Linked DNA regions of Homo sapiens: regions 2, 3, 4 and 5 are each linked to region 1. Evidence: fine-mapped expression QTL. A gene starts in region 1. Each other region holds a variant in brackets. All regions are shown on one strand. Distances are from middle to middle. Region 1 holds the start of RNF217 (ring finger protein 217). Region 2 overlaps RNF217-AS1 (RNF217 antisense RNA 1). Region 3 overlaps RNF217 (ring finger protein 217). Region 4 overlaps RNF217 (ring finger protein 217). Region 5 has its middle 78 kb from the start of RNF217.

Region 1 (5,134 bases):
ATAGGGAACCACATATTATTCTATTTTCACAAAGGCCCAATGAATTCTGTAGGGAAGAAGTCATGGCAAAATAAAGGGCTGCAGTTTTAAGCAGCAGAGATATGGGCGGCCATCATGAGTCCCAGCAGGGACTTCTAATGGGTTTGGTGTAGAGGACAGCCACTTCCAGTAAGCTGGAACCTAAGGGATAAGGAATAAAATGGTAAACACTGGAAGAACAAGTTCTCAGAATACGAGTGAAAAATGTGTGTGAGGAGGGGTTCCCAAAACTATAAGAGGACTTTGAGGGGTTTTATTCCAATAGACGCTGTGGGAATATACTTTTTGGCATCCATTATTGTTACTCTGGTCTTAGCCTGTTGTCACCTGGAAAATGCAGATTACTTTTATATCTCTGGAAAGAATAGTGGCTTGGTCATCAGATGGCACACTCAAAAGGCACACATAAGTAGGTTTCTTGTCTCTGTCTTTAAAACAATAAGCACTTAAAGTATCATTTGGAGAAAACAGCAGTTACCAGGAAATCACTTAGCTGAGATAAAAAAGAAAAGAATCCTCGAATAGCATTTAATCTTCAAAATAAGAATTTTCCATTCTTGGGTCAGACCGATAGATGACATGGCATTTAGACATCCAATTCATACCTTTGCTTGCAACTGAGCCTCAGACACACATATATGATGGAAATGTTCTTTGGCATTACACTGCTTTCTTAGTTTGCATCGCTAGTCACCTTTGTATCATTTGCATCTGATTTGGAAAATATTTTAGAACAACCCAATAACAACTTCGAGATTAAAAAATAAAATTCTACACACTTTACAGTTCCTTGCTATTACATGAATGTGTAAATTGAATTCCCTCTCAGGAGAAAAAAAACAAAACAAGGGCTGGCTTCCCAAAAATGTTTTCACTGGCTTTAGGGAACTAAAACACCAGTGTCTGGGTGAGTAATACTTCCTGTAAAATAAAGATAGATCAACACATAATTAAGTCCTGGCTCACATATAATTGTTGTTTTGGAAACAGTTTTGAGGATAAATATGGTTATGCTAATGAAACTGCCCATGATTTCCACTAATGATCCAGTTTATTAATTAGGTCAGGACATTTTTCCACCTTGTGCTATCCATTTTGGAATGCTGAAAAGGGTTAAAAAAAAAAACTTCTAAGAGAACACTGTAGGCGAAGAAAAAGAGAGAAATTTTAAATTAGTTATCAACTCTTCTAAGGATTCCAGTTGGAGGAGTAGATCGAAAGTGCTTTTTCGATTATTTATGGGTTTCGAAGATTCTTCCTACTCCACTAGGCAGAAAAACAGAGTTGTAATATACAGCATTTAGAATTCATAATCCTTAGCATTATTTCTCTGAACTCGACATCCTAAATAGCCAGCGTTTACTAATTCCAGAGCTGAGTGTAGTTTTGTAGGAAGTTCTACTGAATGCGGAGACCAAAGGGGAGCCTGCCTGCTCTGAGGGTTTTGTTGAGGCTGAGTGTGAACTCCGGGCGAGAAAGCGCATCTCAGCTCTTAGATCACACCCACTCAGGGTGTGCGTGTGTGTGTGCGCGGGTGCCTGCGCGCGTGTGTACGTGTGGGGAGGTGTGCGCCAAAGGGGTGGGGTGAGGGGCGGCGAGGAGGGCTGTAGGTGAAGCGCGGGGAGAGGGAGGTCGCCCGCTCCGGCCTCTCCCCCAGGGGCCCTGCGGCTGGCCAGCGCTCCGGCTGCACCTCCTGGTGCGCGCCGCGGCGGCGCCACAGGCCCCTCGACCCTTTGACCACCGCCCTCGGGCCGCGCGTCCGGCAGCCGGGACCGGTGATGGCGCGGGACTGACGGCCGTCTCCTCCCAGACCCCTCTGTCCCGCCTGGGGCTCGCTGGGGCTGCGGCGCCGCCCCGAGCTGCATGTGGGGCGGGCGCGCCCGAGCCCAGAGCGAGCGGCCCTCGGCGCCCCCGAGGCGGTGCCCCGCCGCGCCAGAGTACGAGGAGGAGCGGCGGGCCGGGCCAGGCTCCCCACGCGCCGCAGCCTCGGAGCACGGGCTCCCCGGAGGGGACTTGGGGCGTCCCAGCCCAGGAGGAAGGACCCGGAAGCAGAAGCGGAGCCGCGAGTCGAGCCGAGCCACTGCCCCCGCTGCCCGCGGGCGCCGGGTGGGGGTCCCGGCGGCTGGATGGGCAGCGGCGGCGCGGGCCGCGGGCGGCGATGGGCGAGGAGCAGAGCACGGTGAGCGGCGGCGGCGGGCCCCAGGAGTCGCAGACCCTGGCCAGTGGCACTGCGGGCCACCCTGAGCCCCCGAGGCCTCAGGGGGACAGCGCCCGGGCGCCCCCGCTGCGCGCCGCCTCCGCGGAGCCGAGCGGCGGTGGCTGCGGAAGCGACTGGGGCTGCGCGGACACCAGCGCCCCAGAGCCCGCGAGGAGCCTGGGGCCCCCGGGCTGGAGTAAGAGCCGAGCACCGGCGCAGCCTGCGGGACTGGCACTCACCGGGCCTCTCAATCCCCAGACCTTGCCACTGCAGTTGGAGCTGGAGGAGGAAGAGGAGGAAGCTGGGGATCGAAAAGAGGGAGGGGATGAACAGCAGGAGGCGCCCCCCGGCGAAGAGCTGGAGCCCAGGACCCGCGTGGGGGCCGCCGACGGACTGGTCCTGGACGTGCTGGGTCAGCGGCGCCCGTCCCTCGCCAAGAGACAAGTCTTCTGCTCCGTGTACTGCGTGGAGAGCGACCTGCCCGAGGCCCCCGCCTCGGAGCAGCTCTCGCCGCCCGCGTCGCCACCTGGGGCTCCGCCAGTGTTGAACCCTCCCAGCACCCGCTCTTCCTTCCCCAGCCCCCGACTGTCCCTCCCAACGGATTCCCTCTCCCCCGACGGCGGCAGCATCGAGCTGGAGTTCTACCTGGCGCCCGAGCCGTTCTCCATGCCCAGCCTGTTGGGAGCTCCACCCTACTCTGGCCTGGGCGGTGTAGGGGATCCCTATGTGCCCCTCATGGTGCTGATGTGCCGGGTGTGCCTGGAAGACAAGCCCATCAAGCCCCTGCCTTGCTGCAAGAAGGCCGTGTGCGAGGAGTGCCTCAAAGTCTACCTGAGCGCCCAGGTAACTTCACCCCCTTCTCTTCCCCATTTATCATTCCAAATCACTGGCGAGGAGGTCCTGCTCTCGATCTGATCTCCCTGCTCGCGCGAAGAGGTGACCGACACACTTACTGAGGATCTCTGTTAGTTTCTCACGTCTCAGTTGTTATTTAAGTGTATTATGACCTCACTGGTTTACTTAACTGGAATTTAACTTTGCTGTGAACTTCAGGCTATGGTTGGCATGTGTAGAAGGCACAAGATACAAGTTGTTGCCCTCCTCTTATTTCTTATACAGGATTGCAAGCACAAGCTTGCTCAAAGGAGGAGAGGAAGAGACTGCCTCATCGGCCTGGTATCCCAGAAACTAACAAGCAGTGGGCATAGAATAAATATTTATGGAGCTGGTGGAGAAAAGAATTGGAATAAATATTTCAGACCCATAATACATGAATTTGTAATTTTGCTTCATTTGTATATTCCAGGAAAGAGTGAATGTTTAAAAAAATGTATCCCTTGGCCTTTGCCTACTTTTCAGTTTCCTTTTTCCACAGTAAAGTTGAAGTACTTTTCTTTCACTGAGGTTTTAAGCCAGCACTCTTTAAGAGGGAAGCAAAACAGAAAGAGCAAAACAAAGCAAAGAGAGGCTAAGAGGTTTCTCAGAACAAGCACTGGTGAAACTTTCCTCCTCTGCTTTTATTTGAAAACTTGGTTTTTTTTCTTGGAAAGCTTGAGAGTGCACCAGACCAGCTTTCCTTCACTGACGGTGAATGCGTTCTTCCAGCAGTTTTCAATCTGTGATGTTTCTGCCAGTGTTTTGCACAATCCTGGATGCCCTTTGATCCTGTGTCCAATTGTCCTAGGCCTATTCATCTTTCAAAACCCTGTGTGTTCAGGTGCCAACTCTTCTGTGAAGCGTTGCCTCACCCTCCAAGTCACTGCTTATATACTTTCACAGTATCTTATATTATCTTACATGCACTGAAGTTGTTTCTTTCGTGTCTGCTTGTCTTGTTAGACTGTCTGGACAATGTCTTAGAGTCCCATATGTGGTAGCTTCATGTTGAGTCCCTTGCCCATCATAGTGTTTTTAATAACATTGGCTGGGACAAACTGAACAGGGCTCCGTACCATGTGATTCCTCTATGTTTTTTGGCTAACTCATGCTTGGGTCTAGACTGAAAGTGTGTACAGTCCCTAACTAAAAATGCAAACAAAGACTTAAAACGGTATGTTACATAAACAGTAAGTTGGCTAAAATAGTTGGGATTATTTAAAAGCCTCTGAGAGACTGTTGTTTCTTTCATGCTTTATCTACAGAGATTCTTAAAACAGGAGGAATGTCTGCTGCTGGTTGTGGTAGTTTCTGTATCATCATCCTCAAAACAGATTTCGCTGCCCTGCGATGGGATTCAGACATTTCCAAAATATAAGCCCGCCTCCAGGGAAGTCACTGTGAGAGCAGATGTGTACAAAAGAACAATACAAGGTAGCATGGGATGAGATGTCAATAGAGTAACAATTCCAGATAGCACTTCCTGTTAAATGCTGGATACACATTCCAGAAATTCAAGGGAGGTAGTCATTGTGGCTTGGGGTACTTTACCTAGCAGTTTGATTTCCTTATGGTGGGCCCTTTCCCCAAAGCAGTTTTCTTTTTCTTTATTAAACCTCATAAGTTAGTTTTAGGAAGTTTTAGTAATGGTAGTAGGGAGACAGAGGGACATAGTCAAGTGGTCATTGCAGTGTACAGTACAACCACTAAAAACTCCTCTGCAGTGACACAGTATCTGAAGCTTGTCTGCAGCATTTCTGATTGTATGTATGTGCCTGACCTTCTTCCAAAGTATTTGCTGGGACTTTCAATAAATAATAATACACATTATTGGCCGGGTGCGGTGGCTCACGCCTGTAATCCCAGCACTTTGGGAGGCTGAGGCAGGTGGATCACCTGAGATCGGGAGTTCAAGACCAGCCTGACCAACATGGTGAAACCCCGTCTCTACTAAAAATACAAAATTAGCTGGGCATGGTGGCGCATGCCTGTAATCCCAGCTACTTGGAAGGCTGAGGCAGA
Region 2 (5,134 bases), 44 kb before region 1:
TTCTCCAGATAAATACGAGAAGATATACACCCAAGTTGGAAAGTCAAGTAGATTGAGTAATTTTTCAAATGAAAATGAAGAGTCAATACCTTGTGCCTAGTCAAGATTTTTTGCTCCAAAAATGCAGAGGGCTTGAAGAGAGAAGTCAATCCAGGCCTGGTGGCCAACCAGAAAAGACCCCAGAGATCTTTGGCTTTTCCTCAACTCTATGAATTCTCTCTCCCTTGTGGGTTCTTTCAAAGATAAATCATAATCCTGAACATCAGATCCCCTTTCCTTGGTAGTCTCCAAGCAAGCATTCTAGATCAAAATGTCAGAAGGACCTAGAAAGGATTATTCAGCTCTTTAAAAGAACGGCAGATTGCCTGAGATGAATAAGGCTGTGAGGCGCTCCTTCTACTCCACAGTCAGCCTTTAGAATGTGCTCCTTTCAAATTTCTTATGCAGAAGTAAAGAGTAGCTCTAAGTTTGACTAGATTAGGAGCATGCCTGTGTTTACGAAATATTGGTTAAGGCCTACTTTGTGTGATGTAGAGTAAAAAAAATGAGTGAGACAAGGAAGCCACTGTCTTCAAGGAGCTTTGAGAAGAAAAGGAGACAAACTGACATAATAAATATTTGCAAAGCAGCTCAATAAGTATTAGACTCATGGTGTGTTCATTCATTCAGTGATCACTGATTAAGCGTCTTCCATGAACCGTTACTGATTCTAGGATATGGGCTGATATAAATGGATAACATGCACTTGTGCAACTACATATAGAACACTGAAAGTGCACTGCAACCAGAGAAGTGAAAAGGAGCAAGAGCCCTGGATAACTAACATGCAGCATTTATTGAACCTTTTCCATATTTCAGTCACTTTACTAAGCACTTTGCTTTTAACTCATCTATTCCTCATCATATTTTTTGAAATAGGAATTAACATCCTCACCTTATAGTCGAGGACACTAAGGCTTAAAGAGTTTAAGTAATTCACTCACATAATTGCATAATTTTCAGAAGTATTTTTGTCAAACAAATATAATCTGGTATTTGTTGTTTTTAAAATTAGTATCTACATGACAGAAAAAGAAGATATATGAAGAAAGTTCCTATGGACATACTGTAAATATGGTTTCCTCTGGGCAATAAGACTGAAAGAGAAAATAGATGATCAATTTTTACCATTTGTTTCTGATATAGTTTGGTAATTTTTCCCCACCCAAAGCTCATGTTGAATTGTAATCCCCAATGCTAGAGGTAGAGCCTAGTGGGAGGTGTTTGGGTCATGGCAGTGGATCTCTCATGGCTTGGTGCTCTCTTTGCAAATGAGTGAGTTTTCACAAGATCTGGTCATTTAAAAGTGTGTGGCACCTCCCCCACCCCACTTTCTCTCTCTGTGGCTCCTGCTTTGTCCCTGTGATGTACCTGCTTCCACTTTGCCTTCTGTCATGAGTAAAAACTCCTTAACGCCGCCCCAGAAGCTGAGCAGATGCTGGAGTTATGTTTTCAGCGTACAGCCTGCGGAACTGTGAGCCAATTAAACCTCTTTTCTTTATAAATTACCCACTCTCAGGTATTTCTTTTTAGTAATGCAAGAATGACTTAATACAATTTCTTAGTGATGTTTTGAATATTTTTATGACAACTGTCATACATTATTTTGTAGTAAAAAATGTTTTGCTTTAAAAAATGGGGAGGTGGGGAGTTCTCTAAAGTCACACGACAAGAGTTATTCAAACTCTGGGTTTTTTTACTGCAAATATTATATCCTTAGGCACCACATTGTTTTGCATCTAAACTCCAGTATAAAATATGTATAAGCTTCTACCTCCTTTACCTTCTGTAGGGCAGTTCTCTGGGTGCCCCTTTGGACAAACCCAGTTTTTCTGCCTTCCTCCCTTTTAGTTCTCAAGAATAACTGTAGAATGTGCTGGGATAAGGGGGAGCTAGTCCAAATAGCTCTGGCTTGTTCTAACCCCCCAGAAGAGGATGTTCATTAATACTTTAGCTCAGCATGTCATAATCCCCTGGGGCATAAAACCAGGGAAGGCTGTTTTCTGGGGTTTCTCAACTGCCTTGGGTGACTTTCCTGAGCCGTGAAGAACTGGCTCACAATGAATCCCAGGTTTCTGTAAACTCTTGCTGCTATCTATAATAAAATATCTAAATATAACTTGTGTGAGGGGTATTCTGTCTCACTAGATTCAGACAAATTGGTAATCAATGCACAGTGAACCTGTTTCACAACCCTTTTTGAATAATTCATCAGATATAGTTCTAGAGGCCCTGTTTGATGATAATAAAACTTTGTTAATTGAAAGAAAATTAAAAAGCTCTTACTATATTAAAACATGTTCAAACATTCCAACTAAGTCTTTAGAGGCTGGTAATAGAGGTCCCTTAGGAGGCCTGAGTTGCAGAGATCTTGCCTTGTGAGAGACATAGAGCAGACATTATGCTCAAAGAGTGCACA[A/G]GAAGTTCTGTAGCATTCTTTAGTTGTTACTTTGGTTTCGGTTTTGTTTTCCTGACAACAATTAATCTATATAATTCTCCAGGAATTATTTACTACCACTTCCATAATGAAGAGAGCTAGAAAAGAAGGAAGTGAATGTGGCAAGAGTCTTTTACATTTGTGAATTTATATTCTCTGTAGGAAAATAAAAGTCTATTTCTTTTGTGTCCTCCATCTAAGCTAGGTTAGAGTTATCTTCCCTTAGAAATCAAAATAATGGGAAAATGAAACAATTGGCATTCAATTGAAGCAAAAAATAAATAAATAAATGAGTATTAAGTTTGAGAAGCTTGTTGTTCATTGGGTCTAACCACGAAGTGATTAGCTTTCTATATTTAGTTGTCAGAAGAGGGATTTTCACTGGATACAAATATTTAAATGGCTTATTAATGGAAAAAACCAAACTAGAGATTTCAGGATTTGGGATGTGACTTCAAAATAGCAGTAAGAACATTTATTAAATGGTCAACTTTTTAATGCATAAATAAGCTTAGAATTAGAATACTGTAGTATAACTTCTCTTGAGTGTCCTTGTTGCACTTGAGTACAAGCAATCATCACTGCATCCATTTTCATTTTCCCTTGAGCTTGCTTTCCCTAATTAAGAGGGTTAGTAATGGCACTTACAGTTCATCTAATCTGGCTTTAAGTAATTATGGTTCATTGCAGCAATTACAAGTTACATTTATAAAGAACAATAAAGGGGAAAACCTTTCAAATGCAGTTTATTAGGCTTTGAAAACCTGCTACAGAATGGACACTCAATATATATTTACTAGGCAATCAAATACTTTAGTGAGAATATGAATTAAGACTAAGAAATTCACATCCATGACTGTCTTTAAACTGTGACTCCAAACCCATTTCTTCCACAATACTCTCCTAATACCAGAAAAGCACAGCCACTCTAATGCTTCTTCAGCATTGCATATAGACAACCCATAATATTAATTAACATAGTCCATAAAATATGGTTCTTTTAAATATTTCATGTTTTCTTTTCTGTTTATAGTGTTTTCATTTATACGTAAGTTCCATGAGGACAGAAATCATCATCTCTATTTCTTTTGCTTCTTTTGGCAGCTCCTATGCAAAATCTGCCTTGTGCCTTCCTTTTTCCTCACATTTCATTTAAACTCCCCTCCCACTTGGTCATCTTAATATCCTACTAGGGCCCTATTCTTTTGATACGGCCTTCCTGACCATTCTAAAACTGGTTCCTTACTCTATTGATTGCCTACAACATTTTCCACATCTACTACTTTGATTCCTGTATTAGTCTGTTCTCACACTGCTAATAAAGACATACCCGAGATTGAGTAATTTATAAAGAAAAAGAGGTTTAATGGACTCACAGTTCCACACAGCTGGTGAGGCCTCACAATCATGGCAGAAGGCAAAGGAGGAGCAAAGGCACGTCTTACATGGGAGCAGGCAAGAGAGCATGTGCAGGGGGAACTGCCCTTTCTAAAACTGTCAGATCTCATGAGACTTATTCACTATTACAAGAACAGCATGGGAAAAACCTGCCCCATTGATCCTATTACCTCCTACCTGGTTCCTCCCATGACACATGGGGATTATGAGAGCTGCAATACAATATGAGATTTGGGTGGGGACACAGCCAAACTATATCATTCCACTTCTGGCCCCTCCCAAATCTCATGTCCTTACATTTCAAAAACAATCATGCCTTCCCAACAATCCCCCAAAGTTTTAACTCATTCTAGGATTACCTCAAAAGTCCACAGTCCAAAGTCTCATCTGAGACAAGGCAAATCCCTTCCGCCTATAACCCTGTAAAATCAAAAGCAAGTTAGTTACTTCCTAGATACAGTGGGGGTAGGGTACAGGTATTGGGTAAATGCACCCATTCCAAATTGGAGAAATTGGCCAAAATGAAGGACTACAGGCCCCAGGCAAGTCTGAAATCCAGCAGGGCAGTCAAATGATAAAACTCCAAAAGGACCTCCTTTGACTTCATGTCTCACATCCAGATCATGCTGATGCAAGAGTTGGGCACCCACAGCTTTGGGCAGCTCCACCCCTGTGGCTTTGCAGGGTACAGCCCCCCTCCTGGCTGCTTTCACAGGCTGGCATTGAGTGTCTATGGCCTTTCCAGGTGCACGATGCAAGCTGTTGGTGGATCTACTACTCTGGGCTCTAGGGAATGGTGGCCCTCTTTTCACAGCTCCACTATGCAGTGCCGCAGTGGGGACTCTGTGTAGGGGCTTCCACCCCACATTTCCCTTCTGCACTGCCCTAGCAGAGGTTCTCTGTGAGGGCTCCAACCCTGCTGCAAACTTCTGCCTAGACATCCATGCATTTCCATACATCCTCTGAAATCTAGGTGAAGATTTCCAAACCTTAATTCTTGACTTCTGTGCACCCACAGGCTCAACACCACATGGAGGCAGCCAAGGCTTGGGGCTTGCACCGTCTGAAGCAACGGCCTGAGCTGTACGCTGGCCCTTTTAGCCACTGCTGGGACACAGGGCACCAAGTCCAGGGGACTTCACAAAGCACCAAGGCCCTGGGCCTGGCCCACAAAACCATATTTTTCCTCCTAAGCCTCCTGGCTTGTGATGGGAGGGGCTCCCTAAAGACCTCTGGCATGCCCTGGAGACATTTTCCCTA
Region 3 (5,134 bases), 130 kb after region 1:
AGCTGGGATTACAAGCACGTGCCTACTATGCCTGTCTTCAAAATCACATTGTTAATTTTTATAGCCACAATTATTAATTTGATAAAACAAATAATTTTATAGAAGCATTAAAGTATTATCAGAACAAAATCAGAGTTCCAAAATTTGGGGAGTATTTTAAGATTGTGAAATGTTACCTTTTGGATGCAAACCAATGATACAAATCTTTAAGAAAGAATTACAGTGGGACTCCTTTGAAACTCTGATTTTGAAAATAGAACAAATACACATTTCATAGCCAAACTTTGTGTGGGACTTCTATTGTTACTAATTGTAAGGCTGTAACTTTGGTTGACTTCATCCAAATCCAAGAAACAGAGTCACAGTAGTGAGACTATTCTCATTGCTTCTTTGGAGCATTAGCTGAAGCTTTACCATATCACATACCTTACAAAATCCCTATACATATTGCCAGTTTTAAAAGAATGTAATTATGCATGTTACAAACTATATATATCTTTTTGGCTAGAGAAGTGACTATTTTAGAATAACAGTATGAATGTAAAAGGCAATAATTTTTTTTAAATACACAAAACATTGCCATTGCCCTTTTTTGTCACTTCCTTTTTTCTTCTAAAAATTTTCATTTGGTGTATCTAACTTTGTATCACTTAAATTATTCAGACTTACTAAGATAAAAAATACTTTTTTTCAGTTCTGTGCTATATTCTGTCACTCTATTCCATTATTAATACTAAATGACTTTCCTTGTGAAATGATACCCACATACTACAACATCAAGCTCCTTTTTCTCTTAAATTTCCTAATTATCTTGATTTTTGCCTCTGCAGTCTTCTTCCCATCTTGGCCAAGTGTGGGATAAATTCTGTCTCGCCCGTAACTCCTTTCACTGTAATGAAATGAATTCAACACTGAACGCACTCCAGAATTTAGCTCTGGTAGTGAGCATAATTTACCTTGGCTTATTTTATTTGTAAATGGAAATGTATCAGGAGTGCCTGGAACACTTTTCCCTCTTGATAGGAGTTGGAGAACACTGCCTAGCCCTCTGCCAAGAAGTAAGTCAAGCAAATGAAGATACCAGTTGGATCAGAGGGCCTAATAATAGTCTAAAACCAAGCTTCAGAAATTGCTTCGTGACTGTTGTAAGATCAATATTGTGTTTGCGTATTAGTTGGACAGAAAGCATGTGTGGACATTCATCCAACCTGACCCCAGGTCATTCATTCTCCATCCAAAAAGGGTTATAGGTATGGTTTATGGTCTTTGTTTCAGCAAAACGTCCTACAGCTTGGACTTGGGGTGGATTTATATAGTGTAGCATTTGTATATAAGATTCAATTATGGATTCATGCTCTGTGAACATTGTTAGATTTTTAATAATCTAAAGTAGGTCACATTGAATGTAACTGATATTAACCCTATTCTAGAGAAAACATTTGTCATTTGCAAGTGTTTGACTTTTTTATTGATATGATTTAGATATGCCACACTCAATATATTTAGTATAGATTCAGTACATAACAGGAAAGAAAAAGGGAGAGACAGACTTGAGTGTTAAAGGACCCCAGAAATTGCTGAAATGTCCTTTTAGATTCTTGTGGCTGGCAAGCTATGCTGTCATTGGTTCTCTGCGAATCTGTGATGTGTTCACTTCGCCATGCCCCAGCTTGGGAAATATTCTTAGTAATCCAATCAAATCCTTAAAAACAGCATTTTTGTGAATGTATTACTTCTTCAATATCCCCATATATTTGTATTGTTTCAAGCCACTAGTATCTAAATTTTTGATATAAATATCTAAATTCTTTCATTTTATAGAAAATTAGCATGCTTTATGTTTCTTTATAATGAAAAGTCTAGATAAAGTATCATAATTTCATTATCAGCTGACAAGAAACCCTTCTAAGACCCATTTTTTTAAGTGTCATATGGCAACTCCTCAATAGCTTACTTTTATTATTTGATCATTTTCATCACAATTGCAATCCTCTAGAGGGTATTTTAAAAAGTAGACCAACCTTATGTTTCACGTGAAACATAGAATAATAATTAGTTTGTATATATATAAAACCATTTACCTTGACAAGGACAATCTGTTACAGATTTTTAATATGAAAATTGACAATTTTGTTGCTTTTAGAAGCAATTAACATAGTAATTAGTAAATTCTGAGAGATGACAGAAATGATTTTCTGTAGAAGGAACACAACAGTGATGTTAAAATGTTAACAAAGAACCAGTTGTTTTGATTCTATTTTAAACAAAATTGTAAGGCAATTTTATGAAACAAACATTTATATCAATGTATATCTATTTCAAAACTGTGGGACAATTATTCATTCTTTTCCCAAATAGAGTAAAATATTAAAGAGAAAAAAATTCGAGTGTTTATCTGTTATTACTGTATATTCAGAAATTACAGTTCTAAGGAATTATTGTCATCCTCTAAGTATCAGAATGTATTCCATTTTAATTATATTCTCCTTAACAATAGAAAATTAGAAGAAATTTCTTGATCATAAGATGAATAGTAATTTGTACCAGATCTTGTCCATCATTTCATTAGATTGCATATTTTTAGTTTTCTATAAAATTTGCAGCCATTTTCCAAATAAAGTAAGTTATAATATTTTTCAAGTTTAAAATGGACC[G/T]GGTTGAAAAGAGATTTCATTGATTCTTTTTAATGATATTGGAAAATATTTATGCAATTTTATTTTTTAACCTTTTCTCCATTTCATTAGTTATACTATTAACTTTGATAATCACAAAACTATGTGGAAGAAATCATTCTGATTATATTTTATGAAAGAGAGGGGTAGAGTAAATTTTTTAATTAGACAATGTTGATATGCAGAAATCTCTCAAAAGAAATTGCAAAGGAAAAATTACGTTGAGATGAAATGTTGAGAAATAAGGAGTATCTTAAAAACCTAATTTCTTACACTTTTTAGAGCAATCAACTTATTTCCAAATTATTATTTCATGCTGTTGTTTCCATGAATTGTGTTTTTAGCATAGTATATACTTTTCTACCACGTTAGCATTTACACTCTAATTACTGAAAATAAAGGAAGAAGTTGGTGAATAAAAGCCAGGGAAACTGGGTTTATTCTCATTTTCCAATAGCACTAATGTATAATCCCTTTAACCTTCCATATGGTGCTTTGTGTGATGAGTATATAACATTCATATACGTTATTAGTGCCTTATTTTTTTCACTTGACTTTATTTCTTATCTAAAGAGCCATATATTTTTTGTGAGTGTTCTTTGGTCCCTCTATTTAAAGTGCTAAGGAGAAAGCATATCTTTAGGGATGTATATAGGCTGCGTTTGCTACCTTAATCTACTGTATTATCTCTAAAACAGGTTAGCCAATGTATTTTTCTTAAATTCATTGTTCATTTTTAAGCTAACCTATACAAATGGATATTAAACACCAGAAATTAAAGCCATTAAAATTGAATTGTACTTTAAAACCATAAAAAATGCTAATTAAGTTTAGAACAGGAGTTGAAATGACTCTCAGTTTTATCTATAGCTCCAATTAGGACAAAATTACTTTACAAAAAGCATTAAAAATAAAAGTAACTGTATGGTACTTCAGGAATTTGACCAGTTCCTTACAACTTATTCTTGGCAATATTTTGTCAGTAATATACTTTCATACAGATGCTAGAGAACCATGGTGTCTGCTATTTACATGTTATTTGTTCCCAGTGAGCTTTATCAACATCAACCCTGTTTATATAATATGTTATTTTGCTCTTCTTGATCTGTGCCTTTTGTTTTAGCTTTATACAAAATGCTAGGTTTGTTATATTCTTTATGTATCATAATATATAATTCAACTTTTCCTGATGAATGTATGCTGAATAATTAAACTAAACCATGTGCTTAGAAAAGACAAAGACAGGTTGTATATGCAGTTATGTGTAAATATTTGACAAAGAAAAAAAAAGGAAAAGAATCTTCCTGCCAACAGGTAGGTCCTGCTGGACAGGACCTGAAAATTAAGAGATTTTTTTTTTTAAGCAGTGAAATTTAAAAATCTATTACCTCAAGAATTTTCAGTCGATATGTCAATGTACTGTTCCTTCTCAGTAAGTACAGTGTCACATGCTGCTGGCGGTAAAAGCAACCCAAGTGTCAGATCACACAAATTTTAGGGACAAGTCTTTCAAAAGACGGACACCTTGTGATATTTTGGAGTCTAATTTCCGACTTTTCGTAATGTCCCAATGACCTTTTGTTGTGGTTGGGCTTTTATAAAAAATTATTTTCGGTTGGTTGTTGTAGAATGGAAGAGTAATCTTAATTATGAAATCAGATTGCATGGAAGAATATAAAGACACTCACTCGGATGAAAACTATAACGGTTTTCAAACTATTTTGATGGTCATTGTACGAGCTATTGTATGGATTACTGTGGAGTGCTGTTTACCACATGATGTGTGCAATACATCATGCAATGTTATTTAGCAATGCGTAATAAAAGTTTTTAAAAGAGAAAATTCTTGTCTTTTTTTCCAATAGGTTTGGATTTTTAAAAAATTAAAAATAAAACTTCACAGCAACAAAACTATTGTGCCTACAGTTACTGGAGTAATTTCTACATTGGACTCTAGAAATGGAGGAGCAGGAATGAACAGAAATTCAAGGGTGTGCTTTTGGGAAGGTGGATTGTGTTGTGTTGCTGTGGCACGTTTTGGGGAAAGAGCACAGAATAGTGAAGATCAGTGCAAACATTCTGCATGAGGCATGAAAAAGAAGCAAATAGTGTGGAAGTAAGAGATCAGCTTAGGGTGGTCTTTACTCTCTAGACCAAGGGGCCTATACAGGGGTGGGAAAGCAGAAACCACTAAACTGCTAAAGCCAAATATATACGCCTACTCTATAACCTAGCAATGATTTTCCTAGATCTGTCACTAAGGAAAGAATGGCCTTTGTTGACCAAAGGGTAAGTACAAGAATTTTCCTTAACAGTAAAATCATGAATATATTGTGATATATTCATAGAATGGAATATTATAGAACAATTAGAATGAAAATAATCTTAATTTTGAAAAATTACAGAGCAATCTATGCAAAAATACAGTTGACTCTCACAGATACTATGTTGAGCAGATGAAG
Region 4 (5,000 bases), 35 kb after region 1:
GCGGGTGCTGTGGCTCATGCCTGTAATCCCAGCACTTTGGGAGGTCGAGGTGGGTGGATCACCTGAGGTCAGGAGTTCGAGACCAGCCTGACCAACATGGCAAAACCCCATCTCTACTAAAATTACAAAAATTAGCTGGGCGTGGTGATGGACTTCTGTAATCCCAGCTACTCGGGAAGCTGAGCTAGGAGAATCATGTGAACCCAGGAGGTGGAGGTTGCAGTGAGCCGAGATCGTGTCATTGCACTCCAGCCTGGGTGATGAGCAAGACTCTTGTCTCAAAAAAGAAAAAGAATCAAGAAAAGAAAAACATTTGGAATATTTCTGGGTTTTTTTTTTCTATTTCTCTTACAGACTATGTACATGTATAGGAATTTTTCCAGATTTTTTAAATCTGGGAAAGGTTTTGTTGCTTCACAAGGCCATGAATCTTTAACCTGGCTTGGTATTGCCAAATTGTTTTCCAAAGTGGTTGTGCCAGTTGATACTCGCTCCACAGCTGATGAAAGTTCCCATTGCTCCATAACCTCAACAGTACTTCATCGTATATTTAAGTGTTTTGCCAGTCTGCAGGGTATGAATAAACATCTCATGATTTTGTGTGTTCATTACCCTCATTTATAATTAGCTTGAGCTTTTTTTATTTTTGAAGATTTTTAATTTTGAAGATTTTTTTAATTTTTGAAGATAATTTATGTTTTCTCTGATGTGCTTTTTCTTATCTTTAGCCCATTTTTCTGTTTCTTGGGTTGTCTCTTACTGATTGATAGGAGTTCTATTTTTTATACCCTCAATACTAATCTTTTGTTAGTTAAATGTGTGTTGTGGATATCTTCTACCAATTCATGGTTTTCTTTTTCTATTTTTATGATGTCTTTTATGAAGAGTTTTAATTATCTTTAATCCATTGCAATCTGAATTCTGTCCCCACAGCTCTGTTGACATTGGCTCTTGAAGGCAAACTTCATAATGAGGGGAAGAGTCAAGTTTTGTGTAACCTGAAGCATATACAGTGTGAGCATACTCTTTAAGACTAAGTTATGAATATAAAGTTAGATGCAAAAGTAAATGATTACAATGAGACTATAAGTCACAACAATTACAAATTTTAAAAGCTACCAAATACTACAAATATTGCAGTTTTAAAATATAACATTCCTCTTAACTGCCTTGTATATCTTTATATTACTTATCTATTTTTTACTATATAAAGCCTGATTACCTTTGTATAATGAAAATTTTGTAATGTAATTTTGAAAGTTGGAGTATAAAAATGATCCGTATTTTCTTTAAATCATCTTAATATGGTTTAGTATTGACAGTGGAGATGCATAAAATATGTTCCTCTTCACACAGACTTGTTTGTAGCACTCCTGCAAGTTTAGGTTCTACAAACACGGACGTGCTGGTAGAGTCTATTTTTTCATCATTTCTGTCAAAAAAGAATTTATTTTCTGTTTTGGTCCGGTGTGTATTCATTTGTTAAACTGATGAGAAGAGAATTTCTGTTTTGACCAGGCATAGAAAAGAGAATCCTCTGTTTAAAATGTTCTGTGTGATGATTGAAAGGATTTTTCTATAGAAGAGTTCACGGCTCCATGTATTTGCATGTATGGCTGCTTCACTACTCGCATGTTCCCCACCCTGAGCTTTATAGAACATGTTGTATTACAATCCTGGTGCTTAAGTCATGACTCCAGGTAAGTCAGCACAAAAGGATGGAAGATATTCCTGGAAATCATTCCTACCCTAGGGCTCTGCCAATTACTTAACCATATGCGAAAGTGACTGTAAATCACATAGACAGGTTCACACAACTCGAGTTAATATATTCCCATCTCAAATACTTCTTAGGCAAATCCGAAAAATGTTCACTCATAGCTGTAGTAATGACAGCAGACACATTGATGAAGGGCAAGTCAGAGTGGAAAGTGACAGGGGTCTTAACCAATTACAGTTAAATCTCTCACTCCTGCAAAAACATCTGACGCATTGAGCACATTCATAGGTCCTTGGAAACAGCCTGTGGCGATGAGATACCTGGACACTAGTTTCAGGGTAAATCCTGCATCTTTAATCTGCTCGCTCTCTCTACAGCCCTGAACACTTTCCCTTGCTTGTTTTCTTTACTTTCTCACCTTTAGTTGTCTCTCCCTCAAAGGCTTTTCTAGACTCTACTAACTTAATGTATTTCTCCAATATCTGCCTTGCTTTTAATTTTTTCATCCTGTAGTATCCCTTTGACCTTACTGATCCCACCGCTTGAACTGTCCTTACCTGTTCTTATGTGACGGTGACTCCAAAATTTCCATGTTGAATCCTGAATGTCTGCCTGACTCCGGCATTCCTTTTCTGATTGTGAGCAAGGGGCATCTCCTAATTGACATGGCTCCTCAGATGCCTCAGATTATATATGTTCAGAGCAAA[C/G]TTTTAATATTTCTTCCAGACCATTCACCACTTCATCCTTTCATGTTCCAGTCATTTCTATTCTCAGCTCTGGGCATTTTCATTCTCCCAGTCACGTAGCCTCAAATCTTCATCATCTCCGTTACCTTATTTTTTCACACTTTACTTCCCTCATTTTGCCCCTCTATTCTCCTATCCCATGGATTCACCTTGTATGTCATTTACATTTGCCTTTTTTCTTCCCTCAGCTCCTTTCCCCCATTTCAGATTCTCTAACAGAGGTACAAACTGCTGTGGGATATGGACAAGGGGAAGTGAAGACGAATTCAACTTTTCCTAAAGCCTCATGTAAATCTGTCTGCTTATCTCCATCTTCACTTTGTCCATGATCCCAAAATTCAGAATTTCTCTACCATTTTTCTATATACATTTTTTTAATATTGGTCATAACATTTAAAAACTGTGTAGAAGGCCAGGTGCCGTGGCTCAAACCTGTAGTCGCAACACTTTGGGAGGCCAAGGTGGGCGGATCATGAGGTCAGGAGATCAAGACCATCCTGGCCAACATGATGAAACCCCATCTCTAACTAAAAATACAAAAAACCTAGTGAAGCATGGTGGCGTGCACCTGTAGTCCCAGCTACTCAGGAGGCCCAGGCAGGAGAATCGTTTGAACCTGGGAGGGGGAGGCTGCAGTGAGCCATCGCACCACTGCACTCCAACCTGGGCAACAGAGCGAGACTCTGTCTCAAAAAACAAAAATTGTGTAGTAATATTTTGTCAACATAAGATTATAAGCACCTGTATGGTTGTAAACATGTAGTGGGCAAGGAATCTATTCTCACTTTGGTCCAGAACAATGCCTTACATGTAATAGGCCCTGAAAAAGTACATGTGGAATTGACTCCTTCAAAAGTGCCTTTTGTTGCCACTTTTTGTTTTCAAAAATAGATACATGTAATTATACCTTTACATATAGTATAGAGCTTGCAGTTGATTTATAGCAGTATTTGACATAAAACACAACTTCTTTCTTAAGGTGACTTCGTGCCTCTAAAAAGCATACTAGGAAAAACATACTGTGTATTATACTGAAGACAAACAAGGCCTAGTGGCCCCTAGTCCAGTTCTGAGACTGGCTGATCTTTGGTATATTTCATTTTAAATTTCCTCTTGTAGGAATGTCATTCCATTTTTAATCTGCCCGTGTCATGAGTTTCTAACCGCAGGTGCACAAGGAAGTTGGCACTTCAAGCTGGCAGGGATTCATTTCTTCCTTAGCTGATTCCCCAGCAGATCCCTTCTCCAGTTTCACTGCATGCTTTCTGTCTTGTGAATTCCTGTAAGTGTATCTCTTCTCTCATCTTTCCCACTTCTTTTAGAAAAAGAGCAAATACAATTGATCTTTACCTTTTTTTTTTCAAGCTTTAAAATTGTGGTTCAAACTCATTGTTATGTTTAGTGTGATCTTGTAGAAAATGCACTGTACTTTAGGCTCATAGACTGTAGTTCTGCCAGAGCCTAAAGTATAACTACAGTCAAGCCAGGTGATCTATCTGTGCCACATTTGCTTAATCTTGAAAGTGAGGGTGAGCCTTAGGGCTGTTCTGTGGATCAAATAAAATGATGAAAACTGCTTTGAAAAGCTTGGAGCAGAATTTTTCAACATTGAGAAATGTTCAGACAACCTTTAAAGGAAAAAATTATCATGGACCCCTGGTGTTGACTTAGCATTGTAACGTTAAAAAAAAATCCAGTTGTACTTTTCACATACTTTATACTTACTTATTTCTCTTATACAGATAAACAGCTATTAAACTATTAAATAAATATATGAAAAAGGTCCCAGAACAATTATACCACCAATAGCTTATTTACAAATTGACAAGATCAGTTTAATGAACAATATTGTTGTTTTTGCTGCTGTTTGCTGAAACTAAATTAGTGTAACTGAGCATTGTACTGATTACTGCCACTGGTCTTGTAATGATTCAGTTCTCTCAAGCTATATCTCTGTTTAAGCTAGAGAAACCTTGGCTTATGGAATGCAGTCCCATTATTTAATATTTACTTTCTGAATTTACATCTCTGTTTATTTTTTTTTAGTGCTTGGCAAATAGTATTAATAGTATAAAACCTTGCCACATCGTACCATTATTTTGAATTTAAATTGGTGTTTTAGTTTGTTTGCGATTCTAGAAACTAAAAATGTATTCTGTTGAATGGTATTATAACATGAATTATTACTTAAAAATTTGTCTTAAAGCTGATTAAAACAAGACTCTTTTACTATAGTGATAGTTGCTGTATATTAGGTTACACTTTGAGAAACACACATAATGTTATATGATATGTTATATATAATACACAATGTGTAAATGTAAGGGGGCATTATAGATATCAGACAATAGTTGTAAATTGTTCAGCCATTTTTATATGATATAATATTCTATAAAGAAAAAATTATTATTTTTTGAAAACAACTACTGATTCATCCTTAAATATTTATTATTTTATAATTTACTAGGGTAATTTTGATCCTCACATTAATCAGGTATTCTAGGAAAATATGGTACATTTCAGATTTGTATGCA
Region 5 (5,134 bases), 79 kb before region 1:
TGTCCTCTTCCTTAGAAGTAAAGTCTCCTGAAGTGTAAGTTGAACACATTAGGACTTTAATTTCTCTGTTTTTGCTTTTGATTAATGCAAACCCTACTAGTTGATCAAAGAATTCAACTAACTTTCAAACATCTTAAATATCTCTTAGGTTAAAGGTCAAGATCCTCAGTCAAAAGAACAAGGAAGAATTATGGTCTTTAAAACTTTGAACTCTGTGATATAATCTTAAGTTATCATGTTCAAACTTTCTAAGTGACAAAAACAGCAAACTTGGGAAATAGCTATAGAAGGAGAGAACCAGATTTGGGAAATGCAAAACTGGCTGGCCTTCTTTACAAAGAAAAGCAACTTGAGAGTGAGTCACATTTGAATACCCAGTAGCCAATATAGACAAATTCATATAATATAAAAAGGCATCATTTTCTATCCCTGAACTACAATAATAATACTTCCACACAAATTTGAACTAGAGCAATTGATTAACTTGCTAATTCTTTATTCCCAGGTGACAATAAATGGCCCTTATCCTGCCCAAGGATGGAATAGGTTATAGGGTGAACATAAATGGTTGAAAGTTATTGGAGAATAGATGTGCTGCCAGATTACCATTTACAGAACTGACTCACTATGTTTCTTAGACATCCTGGGTAGGTTCCCTATTTATCACATGGGGTTCATAGAACTTGTAGGTAAAAATAGATGAACCCTCACGTAAAATTTAGTACATGGCATCTAACACTCAAACAGTAATCATATTAGTATCCAAATTGGAATTGACTTTGTGACAGATTTCAAATAGCAGAGTCCTGCAAAGCAATTGCAACATGTCTATGCATTCCTAGCAAATCTGAAAGCACATTCAAAATACTGATGCATCTGGTTTTCCCTCAGGCGACAGCTGCAGCTGCTCAAGTTTGCTGGAGAGTCTGAAGTGACAGCCCCCTCCTGGCTGGCAGCATCACTCTCATTCAGAAGAGAGATCACAGAGCCTAGATCATTTCTGCCTTTGATGTGCATCTCCTAGACGTCAGCAGGAGACTAGACGGCTTGTCAGGAATGAGATTAGAAACCTGCAAAGCAAGAACCTTTTCCTAAGATTTTTCAACTATCCCTGTTGTTACTGGACAGACTCAGGAAAGAGAGAAAAATGCATCTGAAATCTCTACCTTCTAAGGCTTTCGTTGAGAAGAAAAAAGCAAGCCCAAATGTATGAGCCTTTGTGCTGAAATCTATGTGAAAGAAAGAAAAAGATAAGAAAAGCAAAGAAAGAGAGAAAAAAGAAAAAGGAAGGAAGGAGAAAGAGAAAGAAAGAGAGAGAAAGAAAGAAAGCAAGCAAGCAAGCAAGAAAGAAAGAAAGAAAAAAGAAAAAAAAGAAAAAAAAAGAAAGAAAAGTGAGATTGTATCTTAAATGGCTCCAGGGTGGGGCAGGAGGAGTTTAAGAAAACATAAGCAGGCTACACTTTTCCCTTTTTTTTTCAGCGACTTTTTTCTACACAGGATTTCCTGATCACATCATGAGGAACTATGTAAATATGCCCTCTTTGACTCAGTGGAAATAATCATTTCCTGTCAAGTTATTTCAAGGAAGGAAAAAGACCCCCAAACAGCCAAAACCAGAAAAGTACAAATTGTCAAATGAAATTTCATAAGGGACAGTTTTCAAGTGAGTCAAGCATTATTCTGTAATTCGTTCTTAACTTGGTTGCCTTTGTTTTGTATTGTTTTGTTGGTCAAATACATTACTTACATTGCGAAATACCCTGGCATCTCATCTTGTAATCATTGCTCAAAATAAAGTTCACTTCTTGAAAGGTTTGGAATTTATACCAAGCCTGTAGTGATTTATAGTTCAAAAACACTTCCTCTTTCTCTCCATTCTCATCCTCACACTGTTTTGTTTATTGTGAAAGTGGTAGATACAGGTGTGAGTGTCCAGCTTACGACAGGAAAATTTTTCCACACTAGAACAAAACAAAATTAACCCATGGAAATAGATTGATCATTTGCCTTTTCATCTAGACAATTATCTTTCTGTCTTTCTCTCTTACTCTATCACTAACTTACAACATTTAATACTTTTATATCTGTGCTATTCAAATCTTTTGAGCAGTAGCCTGAGGGAGTCAGCCATTTCCACCTTCTTGAAGTGTACTTAGTATTTCTTTAGCATATCATTGGCAAACAGAGGTAATTTGACATTCTCTTTTCCTATTCGGATGCCTTTTATTTGTTTCTCTTGCTTGGTTGCTCTGGCTGGGATTTCCAGTACTATGTTAAATAGGAGTGGTGAAAGTGGACATCCTTGTCTTGGACATAAAGATGGAAACAATAGACACTGGGGACTCCAAAAGGGCGGAAGGAGGGAGAGGGACAAAAGTGGAAAAACTACCTACTGGGTACTATGTTCACTATTTGGGGCTCAATAGAAGCCCCAAACTCAGCAGCATGCACTTTACCCATGTAAAAAACCTGCACAAGTACCTCTTGAATCTTAAAAAAAAAAAAAAAAAAAAAATCTAGCCAGGTGTGGTGTGTGGTGGCTCACACCTGTAATCCCAGCACTTTGGGACGCTGCGGCGGGCGGATCACGAGGTCAAGAGATCAAGATCATCCTGGCCAACACGATGAAACCCTGTCTCTACTAAAAATACAAAAATTAGCTGGGCATGGTGGCGTGTGCCTATAGTCCCAGCTACTCAAGGGACTGAGGCAGGGGAATCGCTTGAACCCAGGAGGCAGGGGTTGCAGTGAGCCGAGATTGTATCACTGCACTCCAGCCTGGTGACAGAGTGAGACTCCATCTCAAAAAAAAAAAAAAAAAAAAAAAAAAAAAAATCCTTACAGCTGTTCACGGCTCCCTTAGGCAAATGGTCTCTCTCTCTTTCTCTCTCTGTCTCTCTCTCTTTTCCCATCACATCCTGGGAAGCTGTCTCTTATATTGGCACTCACCTGGATATAAATTATAGAGGCACTTACTCTTCTGTCGTCCCCTGATTTAAAATAAAAAAAGAAAAATAAACAAAGATTCAGGCTAGCTGATATTCCACAGTGTTTTTTTTTTTAAAAAAAAAAAAAGATAGCAGAGAGATTTT[T/TA]AAAAAACATCTTTGAAGAATATTCATTCATAGCCTGGCTAGCAAAAATGAGAAGCTAGAGGCTGCATACTTAGTCCTTATACACATTTGCTTGACAGAAAATGTTACAACTGGTATAATATGTAGTGTACTTGTAGGCAACTAAGTTCTTACAAAGCTCCTAATTTAGAACAGCATTTCTCAGTGTTTTGTTAAACAATAGCACCCCTAGATACATTACAATAGAGAGAGAAGAGGCTCTTGTCAAGAAAATTTAAACTGCTTTATACCATGTACATACATCTCTTGGAGATTTATAACGTACATTCGGGTAGGAAAAACAATACTAGAAAAGCCACCTTAATTCTTTTTAACCACATTTTTCCCAAAGTTGACAATGAAATTCTTTTTAAACATAATTCTTACTAATATTCTACAGAACCTGTGTTTTATTAAACTCCCCTTTAGGAATCACAAATTTAGAGCATATCTAAACTGCACTAGAAGAAAAGAGTCTAATCAGATTAAAAGCATTTGGCATTCATTTCTAAGATTATAAATTATGTATATTTTTCCCAATTAATCTAATCCCCTTGGCTTGCTATAATGCTTGCTACTACTTTAAAGTAAATGATATCCAGCGGCTTTATTGTTCTTCCACACATATTCTTCCACTGAAGTAACTGAATGATTCCACCACCACAGGTGATCCAAAACATAAGGTGTATGCCTTATCAGAGAATGAGACACCAAAAACTAGCTCACTCTCGTTGAACTGTTGAAGTCAACTGTACATCAACTATTTGAAAAATGGAAAAACTAGAGCAAATTCTTTGGAGACATAAACAAACTTTGCTAGTTTGCTTACTCATCCTTAGGCCTGTCCTCATACCTCAGCCCTTTTCCAATTCACCTCACACCAATCATATAGTCATTTCTTTCTTCAGCAGGCAGTAGGTTTATAGATTAAATGATGCTTGGTATTAAAATATCTGGAGGCTGTCACCCACCCACAGAGATTATTGAGGCAGGATCCTTTACCTCAATGAGCTTAAAAACTAGAAGCAGAGAAAATGCATAAACAATGAATGGAGTAATACCCATTATGGTAGGAGTTTCTAGGAAGTTCTCTGCAAGCCCGGTGGAAAGTGGCTCAGTGCTATGAACTGAATGTTTGTGTCTCCCCAAACTTCACATGTTGATATCCTAACCCCTAGTGCAACGATATTAAGAGGTGGGGTGGGAGATAATTTAGATCATGAAGGTACAGCCCTAAAACAATGGGATTTGTGCCTTTCTAAAAGGGACTCCAGAGTACTCTCTTGCTCTCTTTCTGCCTGAGGAACCAAGGAGAAGTCAGTCTGCAGCCTGGAACAGGGCCCTCAGCAGACCCTGACTATGTGGGCACACTGATTTCAGACTTCTGGTCTCTAGAACTGGGAGGAGTAAATTTCTGTTGTTTATAAACCACCCAATCTACGATATTTTATTACAGCAACCCTAATTGACTAAGATTCTCAACCTCGGCCAGGCGCGGTGGCTCATGCCTGTAATCCCAGCACTTTGGGAGGCCGAGGCGGGTGGATCACGAGGTCAGGAGATCGAGACCATCCTGGCTAACACTGTGAAACCCCGTCTCTACTAAAAATACAAAAAAAATAGCTGGGCGTGGTAGCAGGCGCCTGTAGTCCCAGCTACTCGGGAGGCTGAGGAAGGAGAATGGCGTGAACCCGGGAGGCGGAGCTTGCAGTGAGCCGAGATGGCGCCACTGGACTCCAACCTGGGGGACAGAGCCAGACTCCGTCTCAAAAAAAAAAAAAAAAGGATTCTCAGCTTCAGCCTCAGGGAGGTCCAGAAGGTTCACAAGGAGGTGAAATTAGATGTGGATCTTGAAGAATGAGTAAGAGTCTACCAAACAGAATATAGGAAGAAGGCTCCAGACAATGCAAACTGCGTATTGCACACAGAGGTATCAAACACAATTGTGCATTTGGAGCTTTCCGCATGGTTGAAATGGAGAGTACATGTTAAAACTGGCAGGTGATGAGACTGGAAAGGTAAGC

Evidence for each region. PIP is the estimated chance that this variant, and not a neighbour inherited with it, causes the effect. A credible set is the group of variants that fine-mapping cannot tell apart.
Region 2: its variant is the best candidate, but not a certain one, in a credible set for the expression of RNF217 in T cells (TOPMed, PIP 0.75).
Region 3: its variant is the best candidate, but not a certain one, in a credible set for the expression of RNF217 in left ventricle (GTEx, PIP 0.54).
Region 4: its variant is the best candidate, but not a certain one, in a credible set for the expression of RNF217 in sun-exposed skin (GTEx, PIP 0.85).
Region 5: its variant is the best candidate, but not a certain one, in a credible set for the expression of RNF217 in esophagus mucosa (GTEx, PIP 0.75).

What each region holds. Positions count from the first base shown.
Region 1 is chr6:124,960,348-124,965,481 of GRCh38, forward strand. It overlaps RNF217 (ring finger protein 217), which reads left to right and starts at 2,090. Exons shown (of 6, transcript NM_001286398.3): 1 at 2,090-3,079. The coding sequence starts at 2,198. It overlaps RNF217-AS1 (RNF217 antisense RNA 1), which reads right to left and starts at 2,680. Exons shown (of 7, transcript NR_026876.1): 1 at 2,476-2,680.
Region 2 is chr6:124,915,955-124,921,088 of GRCh38, forward strand. It overlaps RNF217-AS1 (RNF217 antisense RNA 1), which reads right to left. Exons shown (of 7, transcript NR_026876.1): 6 at 4,234-4,294. Among named protein-coding and RNA genes, the nearest start is that of RNF217, 44 kb to the right of the region's middle. The variant A/G (reference allele first, on the strand shown) is at 2,459.
Region 3 is chr6:125,088,119-125,093,252 of GRCh38, forward strand. RNF217 (ring finger protein 217) reads left to right here. Exons shown (of 6, transcript NM_001286398.3): 6 at 1-4,515. Among named protein-coding and RNA genes, the nearest start is that of TPD52L1, 63 kb to the right of the region's middle. The variant G/T (reference allele first, on the strand shown) is at 2,655.
Region 4 is chr6:124,995,642-125,000,641 of GRCh38, forward strand. All of the region lies in intron 1 of RNF217 (ring finger protein 217), which reads left to right. Among named protein-coding and RNA genes, the nearest start is that of RNF217-AS1, 35 kb to the left of the region's middle. The variant C/G (reference allele first, on the strand shown) is at 2,428.
Region 5 is chr6:124,881,462-124,886,595 of GRCh38, forward strand. No RefSeq gene overlaps it. Among named protein-coding and RNA genes, the nearest start is that of RNF217, 78 kb to the right of the region's middle. The variant T/TA (reference allele first, on the strand shown) is at 3,093.